Linked DNA regions of Homo sapiens. The protein of the gene in region 1 purifies or fractionates together with the protein of each later gene. This does not show direct contact. Each region holds a gene or a part of one and is shown on either strand. Other genes may lie near its edges.

Evidence for each region. Proteins that work in one complex are often made in the same cells at the same time.
Region 2: the proteins of LSM10 (region 1) and ZNF473 purify together in Homo sapiens (affinity purification with western blotting, with the first as the bait; one study listed by BioGRID). This does not show direct contact.

The regions. Positions count from the first base shown.
Region 1 is NC_000001.11:36,394,226-36,400,067, forward strand, and holds the start of LSM10 (U7 snRNA-associated Sm-like protein LSm10), read right to left. Parts: upstream 3,684-5,842; 5' UTR 3,542-3,683; intron 1-3,541. UniProt on the Homo sapiens protein: Appears to function in the U7 snRNP complex that is involved in histone 3'-end processing. Increases U7 snRNA levels but not histone 3'-end pre-mRNA processing activity, when overexpressed. Required for cell cycle progression from G1 to S phases.
Region 2 is NC_000019.10:50,028,229-50,032,504, forward strand, and holds part of ZNF473 (zinc finger protein 473), read left to right. Parts: intron 1-2,663; 5' UTR 2,664-2,854; coding exon 2,855-2,863; intron 2,864-4,276. UniProt on the Homo sapiens protein: Involved in histone 3'-end pre-mRNA processing by associating with U7 snRNP and interacting with SLBP/pre-mRNA complex. Increases histone 3'-end pre-mRNA processing but has no effect on U7 snRNP levels, when overexpressed.

The sequences.
Region 1 (5,842 bases):
TTCTCAAACAAAATTCCCAGCACAGACCACCTCTGCAATTTTTGTATCTGTGGACACAGATGCTTCCCGCACATGTCTCATAGAATCCTCACACCAACTTGCAAGCCAAGGATTACTTATGCTCATTTTATGAATGAGAAAAATATGGCTAGGATGGCCAGGCGCGGTGGGATACACCTGTGGTACTAGCTACTCAGGAGACTGAGGTAGGAGCTTCACTTGAGCCCAAGAGCTCTGCTGACCTGCTTGGGCAACATAGCAAGACCCCAACTCTGATTTTTTAAAAAAACCTACAAGAAGGCTGGGCATGGTGGCTCACGCCTGTAATCCCAGCACTTCGAGAGGCTGAGGCAGGCAGATCACGAGGTCAGGAGATTGAGACCATCCTGGCTAACATGGTGAAACCCCGTCTCTACTAAAAATGCAAAAAAAATTAGCCGAGTGTGGTGACAGCGGGCGCCTGTAGTCCCAGCTACTCGGGAGGCTGAGGCAGGAGAATAGCGTGAACCTAAGAGGCGGAGCTTGCAGTAAGCCAAGATCGCGGCAGAGTGACTCCGTCTCAAAAAAAAGAAAAACCTATAAGAAAACGGTGAGCATTGGCCGGGCGCGGTGGCTCACGACTACAATCCCAGCACTTTGGGAGACTGAGGCGGGTGGATCACCTGAGGTCAGGAGTTCGAGACCAGCCTGGCTAACACGGTGAAACCCTGTTTCTACTAAAAATACAAAAAATTAGCCAAGCGTGGTGGCACATGCCTGTAATCTCAGCTACTCGGGAGGGTGAGGCAGGAGAATTGCTTGAACCCAGGAGGCAGAGGTTGCAATGAGCCAAGATTGCGCCATTGCACTCCAGCCTGGGCAACAAGAGCAAGACTCTGTCTCAAAAAATAAAGAAAATGGTGAGCATTTCTATTGGGTCAGAGACAAGAAAAGGATGCCTTTTATGGCTTCTAATCAACAGTAAAATGTAGGTAATGGTCAATGCAATGTTCAAAAAACGATTACGGAAAGAAGGGAAAGAATTTAGAGAAACAATAATTATAAAGGAAGATCACTGTCCTTGTTGGTCAATTATAAATTATATGATTATCTACATTGAGAATGCAAGACAAATTATTAGGACTAACAACAAAAGTCTGTATCATTCCTAATAATACATTAATTTTAAAAAATCAATAACTTTAAAAAAAGAAAAATATGGCTAGGAGAGGTAACTTGCCCAAGGTCACAGTAAATAAGTGGAATTGCTGGAATTCAAATCCGTAGCCACAGGCCGGGCGTGGTGGCTCCCCGCTGTAATCCCAGCACTTTGGGAGGCCAAGGTGGGTGGATCACTGGGGCTAGGAATTCAAGACCAGCCTGGCCAATATGGTGAAACCCCATCTCTACTAAAAATACAAAAATTAGTCGGGCATGGTGGTGAGCACCTATAATCACAGCTGCTCCGGAGGTTGAGGCAGGAGAATCGCTTGAATCCGGGAGGTGGAGGCTGCAGTGAGCCAAGATCACGCCACTGCACTCCAGCCTGGGTAACAGAGAGACTCTGTCTCAAAAAAAAAAAAAAAGAAAATCCATAGCCGTCTGGCTCCAAACCTCACACCAGGTGTGCATTAGAATCATCTGGTGAGTTTTTAACCCAACCTCCCCACCCCAGAGATTCTGATTCGTTTGGTTAGAGGGGTGGGCCCAGGTATCCTATTTTGTAAAAGCTCCCGGCTGGGCGCGGTGGCTCACGCCTGTAATCCCAGCACTTTGGGAGACCGAGGCGGGCGGATCATGAGGTCAGGAGATCAAGACCATCCTGGCTAACATGGTGAAACCCCCATCTCTACTAAAAATACAAAAAAATTAGCCAGGCGTGGTGGCGGGCGCCTGTAGTCCCAGCTACTCGGGGGGCTGAGGCAGGAGAATGGCGTGAACCTGGGAGACAGAGCTTGCAGTGAGCTGCAAGTGGAGTGCCACTGCACTCCAGCCTGGGCAGCAGAGTGACTCCATCTCAAAAAAAAAAAAAAAAAAAAAAAAAAGAAAGCTCCCCAGATAACTCCAAAGTGCTGAGGGGTACTGGTTAGAAATGCGCAATCTCAGGTCTCTCCCCAAGCCTGTTCTGAGATAAAATCCACTCCTTCACTGAGTGGCTCACTGCCATCTTCCACGCTGGCTGGAAACAGACTGCATTTTAACATGACCCCCTACGTGAATTAGATACACGTTAAGGTTTGAGAATCATTGGTTGACACCAGTAGTTCTCAAACATTAGTGTGTATCAGAATCATCTGAGGGGCTTGTTAACTCAGCTTGCTGGGCCCCACTCCCAGTTTGACTCAGGTCTGAGGTGAGGCCCAGAGATAAAGTCATTTTGAACATGTTCCCAGGTGATGCTGATGCTGCTGGTCAGGGGCCCACACTCTGGGAACTATTGGTCTACACCATGCAGCTGTTATGTAAGTAGAAATTAAGGTAATGAGGCCGGGTGCAAGGGCTCACGCCTGTAATCCCAGGATTTTGGGAGGCCAAGGCGAGTGGATCACCTGAGGTCAGGAGTTCAAGACCCGCCTGGCCAACATGGTGAAACCCAGTATCTACCAAAAATACAAAAATTACCTGGGCATGGGCGCACCTGTAATCTCAGCTACTTGGGAGGCTGAAGCAGGAGAATCGCTTGAACCCAGGAGGCAGAGGTTACAGTGAGCCAAGATTGTGCCACTGCACACCAGCCTGGGTGACACAGCGAGACTCTCAGAAAAAAAAAAAGAAAATAAATCTGGATAATGAATTGGGGAAAAAAACCCCCAACCGGTATTATATAAGGTACATAGGTTTTGAAGGTAGAGAAACCTAGGTTGGAATCCCCACTCCACCCCTAATTATGAAAACCTAGAAAAGTTAATGTCTCTGAACCTGTTTCCACATTTATTAAACTACAGGAGAAACAAAGCTACCAGAATCACACTCCACTAAAGGTACTCTCCTTTGATTTCAACATGCCCTGATAATGTATTAGTGCACTATGTCTTACCTATCCCTTATTTTCAGACCTGAGTTAAAGGGGGTGGAACGCTCTCTCTTTACGACCTCACTCAGCATCCCGTCCAGGGCTGTGCATTGTGGCACTGAGCGTGGCAAGCCAGACTAGGCCAGTGACGAGGGGGCCTGGGAGCTAGGTCCCTGGGCATGGCCTAACGACCAGCCACCCGGCTGCAGCCTGATGAATCTGCGATCAAGCAAAGGTATGGGGCTGCTGCTGCGACTGCAAAGAGCAGTCACCGGACCTCGAGTCAGGCCCGGGTTCTAGAACAGGCTTTGCCACCTCCTAGGAGGGCGATCACTTAGCAAACCACTTAGCTTCTCCAAGCTAGCTAAGCTACCGGTAAAACGGGATGAGCACCGCTTACTCAGAGCAGCGGGAGCGGGTCTGGGGAAAGGAGCTATACTCGGTAAATGGGGAAGAAAACGCTTCCTGGGCTCCGGCACCTCCTTCCGGAGGTCCTGGCATCCCCCGCATTCCGCCCCGGGGCTCCCTGCACCGCCGACCCGGACCCACCACGCGACATTCCTTCCGCTTTCCCCGTCTGGGTCGCCGCCGAAGCTAGCGGGCGCCTGGACTGGCTGCCTCCCGCCGGCTGCAGCAGGACGGAGAAACCATGCCGGCGACCGGGCCGCTCTGTCCTCCGGGCGCAGAGTGCGTCAGTGCTCTGCAAGTCACCGCGTCACGGAGAAACTACAATCCCCAGAATGCTTCGCGGCGCGGGGCTCGTGCTCCGCAAATCCCGGCCTGCGTCATTGGAGTCTCTTTCACTAGAGTCGTTCATTCATTCCGCACGCATTCATTGAACCGGCGACCTGGGCCAGGCTCCTTCCCAGGCTCCGGCATGGAGCAGTGACCAAGATCAAGTGGCTCCCTGAGCTGATGGCGCTGCAGGGGAGAGAGTCTTAAGAAAACAAAGAAGAAAAATAGGGAAAAATTTCTTCAGAAGATTAAAGGTGTGATGTGATGGTGACAAGGTGGTCTTTTATTGGATTGTCAGGGGTGCCCTGAGAAGGTGACATTTGAGTTGAGATTAGTGACATGAAGCCAAGCTTGTGAAAACTATGGGAGGAGCATTGCAATTAGCGGGAACAGTTTGTTAAGTAAAATTTATAGGAGGCAGGGCCGGGTGCAGAGGCCCACACCTGTAATCCCAGCACTTTGGAGGACAAGGCGGAAGGATCACTGGAGCCCAGGAGTTCGAGACCAGTCTGGGCAACAATGGGGAGACCCTGTCTCTACAAAAAATAGAAAAAATTAGCCCACCGTGGTGGCGTACACCTCTGGTCCCACCTACTTGGGAGGCTGAGGCAGGAGAATTGCTTGAATCCAGGAAGTGGAGGCTGCAGTGAGCTCAGAAAGTAACACTTCATTCCAGCCTGGGCAACAGAGCAAGACTCCGTCTCAAAAAAAAAAAAAAATTGGAGGCCATTGGTTTGAACAGGGCTCCTGCACCAAGCCCAACAGAACCAAAATGGAGTCACTCATGCTAAAGTTCTACATCACCAAGTGGAAACTAAGTTGTTTATCTGATATTCCGATAAATCAGAAGAGTGAGAGATAGCTAGATCTCCAAACCATCCTGTTTTAGCTGGCAGGATAAGGAAGTCCCCTCTGCTTTAGCCTTCAAAGTTACAAGGAAAGTAACTTTGAAACAACCAATCTTTTTGTTTTCTGTTTCTGCTTTCCTCAGCCCTTTTCTGGCTGTAAAACCAATCTCCTCTGCTCAGCTCATTTGAACACTCATTCCATTTTATAGAATGAAGTGTTGCCCGATTCTAGAGTTGCAAATAAAAGTCAGATTTAACAAATTTGGCAAAAAAAAGTCAAATCACCAATTAAAAGTTAAATTTTTTCTTTTCACAGTTCATGCAAAGAACCTGGGGGAAATGACCTTGACAATTTAGGAACACAGGAAAGGCCAGGGAAGCTGGGGAGAGTGGTATAACAAGAGGCCAGAGAGGAAGCAGGAACCAGAGCATATAGGGCTTTGTGAGCCAAGGTAAGGAGTTTAGATTTCATGGTTAGGAGTGCAGCCTCCGGATACAGTGCCTAGGTTCAAATCTACTCCTGGCTAATTGTGACTTTGGGCAAGTTAGTATCTTCTCTGTGCCTCAGTCTTCTCATCTAGTACTAGAAGTGCTATGACAGGCTATTGAAAGGGAGCGAAGTGATTTGATTTACTTGTAGAGACAGGTTCTCACCCTGTCATCCAGGCTGGAGTGCAGTGGTGTGATCATAGCTCACTGCAGCCTCAACTACCTGGGCTCAAGTGATCCTCCTACCCAAGCCTCAAGAATAGCTGGGACTACAGGCACACGCCACTGTGCCCCACCTGATTTACATTTTTTAAAAGTCACTCTGTATAGCCTTGGAAAAATTACTTTCTTCCTCAGCCTCAATTTGCTTGTTATGAAAACAAAAAATTAGGCCTTTCTCAGAGAACTGTAAGATTTAAGTGACCTTCATTAATGTGTGAAAGCATCTGGCACAGAGAAGAAGCTCAGTAAATTAGGCTTCTTGGCTGGGGGTGGTGGCTCACACCTGTAATCCCAACACTTTGGGAGGCCAAGGCAAGAGGACTGTTTAAGCTCAGGAGTTTGAGACCAGCCTGGGCAACATAGTGAGACCCCATCTCTAAATTTTTTTTTGTTTTTGAGATGGAGTTTCACTCTTGTTGCCCAGGCTGGAGTGCAATGGCCTGATCTCGGCTTACAACCTCCGCCTCCCGGGTTGAAGCAATTCTCCTGCCTCAGCCTCCCAAGTAGCTGGGATTACAGGTGTGCACCACCACACCCGGCTAATTTTTGTATTTTT
Region 2 (4,276 bases), on another chromosome or scaffold:
CAGAGCTTGCAGCGAGCTGAGATCGCGCCACTGCACTCCAGCCTGGGCGACAGAACGAGACTCCGTCTCAAAAAAAAAAAAAAAAACAAATTTAATTTTTTTTTGGAGGCAGGATCTTTCTCTGTCATTCAGGCTGGAGTACAGTGACACAATCATAGCTCACTGCAGCCTTGAACTCCTGGGCTCAAGTGATCCTCCTACCTCAGCCTCCCAAGCGATCCTCCTACCTCAGTCTCCCAAGTAGTTGGGACTACAGGCACGTGCCACCACAACTTGCTCATTTTTAATTTTTTTTTTTTAGAAACAAGGTCTTGTTACGTTGCCCAGGCTGGTCTCGAACACCTTTCAGCCTCCCAAAGTGCTGGGATTATAAGCATCCCCCACTTGCCTAGCACTGGTGGGGGAGCTTTAAATGGGCACCAGTGAACTAACTTCGTGGGATGTAGACCCAATGTTGCCAAATCCTAGGATGTTTCAGAAGTTGGAAACATAATTTTTAGGTGAAATTTCCCAATTTTCAAGTTTGAGACTAGTGAGCCATGCTTGAATTTTCTTTCAAAACATTCTGTCTGCCAACAAACATTATGGGCCAAATATCTGTCAACTGAGTTATACTCGTAGGTTGAGGCTTAACCTCTGACATGTAGAAAAACTCATTGTTCAGTAGAATTAGCATTTATTGTAGGTCTACCATATTCCCATATTTGTAGTCTCAAAAATCTGGACAACTCAGAACAACAAATTTTTTTTCATAAATTTAGTGTCCGTGCCTTACCTGAACTACTACAGGGTATTTTTTAAATATAACTTTAAATTATTCTACCTAGAATGAACGATGATACTTTTCTCTAGGGTAAAGTGTTCAATTATGAAATGCAGCCTGATCCACACTGCGCTGGGACTTTGTTTTGTTTTGTTTTTGTTTTTGTTTTTGAGACGGAGTCTCGCTCTGTCGCCCAGGCTGGAGTGCATGGCGCCATCTCGGCTCACTGCAAGCTCCACCTCCCGGGTTCACACCATTCTCTCGCCTCAGCCTCCTGAGTAACTGGGACTACAGGCGCCCACCACCATGCCTGGCTAATTTTGTTATTGTATTTTTAGTAGAGACGGGGTTTCACCGCGTTAGCCAGGATGGTCTGGATCTCCTGACCTCGTGATCCGCCTGCCTTGGCCTCCCAAAGTGCTGGGATTACAGGCATGAGCCACTGCGGCCAGCCCTGCACTGGGATTTTAATGAAATATGCCATGTATATGCCATATCACCTTTTGAAAATAAAAGTTGAATTTCAAAGCACATCTGGCCTTGGAGTTTGAAGAATTTGTGGACCTGTGTCATTGTTAAGTGATCCGTGCTGCTTTGTGATATGAAATGCTTTCAGCACTCCGCAGATATGTGCTACTTGGTCCACGCAGTGGATACAAATGGGTAAAAATGTCTGTGGTACAGTTTTGCGTATTATGGGTCATGAAAATAACTAGGTGGGCAGTGACTATGATTTTTTAATGAAGTAGAATAAAAGAGACTAGAATAGAAAACATCCCAGTGCATCTTACATTGCAGGGTAAGTATTGCTTCATGAAGCTTTTGTTTAGTTACACTGTGTGTTTGAGTAGTCATGATACTTTTTTTTTTTCTTTTTTGAGATGGAGTCTCACTGTGTTGCCCAGGCTGGAGTGCGGTGGCACCATCTCGGTTCACTGCAGCCTCTGCCTCCCGGGTTCAAGTGATTCTTTGCCTCAGCCTTCCGAGTAGCTGGGATCACAGGCACGTCCCACCAAGCCCAGCTAATTTTTGTATTCTTAGTACAGACGGGGTTTCAGCATATTGGCCAGGCTGGTCTTGAACTCCTGACCTCAAGTAATCTGCCCACCTCGGCCTCCCAAAGTACTGAGATTACAGGCGTGAGCTACTGTGCCTGGCCTATTCTACATATTGGTGGTGTTACTGTGGGTCACGGTTAAAACAAAAGTTGAAATATTTCTGTTGTAGAGATAGTGGCCAGGTGCGGTGGCTCACAACTGTAATCCCAGCACTTTGGGTGGCCCACGAGGGCGGCTTACTTGAGGTCAGGAGTTTGAGAACAACTTGGGCAACAAGTGAGATCCTGTCCCTACAAAAAGTGAAAAAGATTAGCTGGATGTGGTGGCACATGCTTGTAGTCCCAGCTGCTTGAGAGGCTGAGGTTGGAGGATTGCTTAAGCCCAGGAAATTACAGCTGCAGTGGCCCATGATTGTGCCACTGTAGTACTCCAGCCTGGCAACAGAGCAAGACCGTGTCTCCAAAAAAGAGTAACAGTTTCGGAGGCCAATTTACCTGAACTCAAATTCCAGAGATGATAATCAGAAATCCCAGAAGCATTGTTCCATTGGTTCTTTAGACACCTTCGTTCTGTCAACAACTGTAGGTACTTTTACACCTACTGTTAAAGCACCTACTGCGTACTAGGCACCATGCTGGTGCTAAGACACAGCAGTGAGCAAGACAGAAGCTCCCACTGTGGCCATAGACTTTCATCACCAAATCTCCTAAACATGTGCTGACTGACTGTTAGGTGCTAACCCACCATTGTTGGTGGCGAAGCTGTTCTGTAGGTTCTGAAGCACAGTGCAAATGTGGGGCTGAGGTGGCTTCAGTAAATATAGTTGTTGTTGTCCCCTGCAGGGAGACTCACATTGGGACTTGTCCTCCTCCTCCTGGACATTTTGGGGGCTCGTCAGCATGGACAGCGAGTCAGCCATGGGTGGAAGGGAGGCTTTCTCACAGCTCCCTTGTGCTTCCCACAGCCCTGCCAGCCGGGAACACGGAGGGGAAGGAGGAGGAGCTTAAAAGAGGCTACTGAACCCCAGTTGGCCATGGCTGAGGTGAGTTGAAGGTCGCTCTGTCCTAATCGGTCACACCCAAAGGCAGAAAAATTGGCCTTCCTTTGTGGCCGAGGCGAGTTGAAGGTCGCTCTGTGTTGATTGGTCACCCCCATGGCAGGAAAGCTGGCCTTCCTTTGTTTTGGCCTCCCTGTCCCATGGTGGCTCCCAGGCGATCTTTTTTAAAGGAAAGCTCGCATGCTGTTCTTTCCTGTTTGTACTCTTCTGGGAACCCCTATTGCTTATAGAATAAATTCCAGGTTTTTCAGCCTTCCTGTGTGTTCTGGCTTCTACCCTCTTTGCACCATCTTCTGTCATTTCTCTAGATAACAAATACTCCCTTTGGCCTAGTAGTAAAAGTTGATTCTGTACTTTCCAGCAGCTTCCTTTGCTCAGGTTGGGCCCTCTGCTGGAATTCCCTGCCCCTTTTCCATGTGGTAGTGTCTCACACAGCCTTTAAGACCCGGCTCAGTTCCCCCACCCTTCCCTAGGCAGTCAGCACTTTCCTGCTCTAGCCTTCCATAGTACCCCCTGCTGCCTCCACTGTAGCACAGATCCACCTAGATATGGATGTTCCTGCCCATATCTGTCAGCCCCACCAGACTAGATGCTCCTTGGGGACAGGAACTGATGGGGATTCATCTCTGGGTCCCCAGGGCCCAGCACAGGCCAGGAACACAGGAAGCCTCATGAGGTGTTAGTTGAATGAATGAATGAATCAATGAATGATGCATGAAACCATCTCTCTATCTGGTAAATATCTGTTCATCCTTAGTGATCCAACTTGAATGACCTTCCCTCCAGGAAGCTTTCCCTGACCTCAAGGCAATGGCCTCCCTCTCCCCCTTGGCCCACACAGTCCCCGATACCTCCCTTTGCCACAGTCCTACCTCCCTCGTGTCTCTCCGTCAGACCATGAGCTCCATGAGGCCAGGAAACAGGTCTGACACACGTCCATGTCCCCAGTGCCCACAATGTGGTCTAGCACACAGGGTAAATGATTGCCAAATATGTGCTCTGACCTTGTCACTTTCCTGTGGCTCCCCAGTGCCTCAAGGATCTAGTCTGCCCCGTCTTCCCACCTCCTTCATCACTGTGACAGGGGCCTTGTCCAGCGCAGTCTGGGAGTGTGAGGAAAGGAAGCCCCTCAAAGGTCCTCTTTGATCTGGCTCCTGCTTGGCTGCTACTCTTGACAGGATATAGACAGCAACAGTTTCTGTTATAAGTACCAGAAATTGACTTACGCAGTCAGGAGACTATTAATTATATAACCAAAAGTCCAGAGGTAGGGCTGTCATGATCTGCAGGTGTGACTGGGACTCAGTTTATTGTCCCCATCTTGAACCTCACTTAGTATGGGTTCCATCCTTCATGAGCTCCTTCCCTTGTCCCAAAACAGCTATCAGGACCATGTGC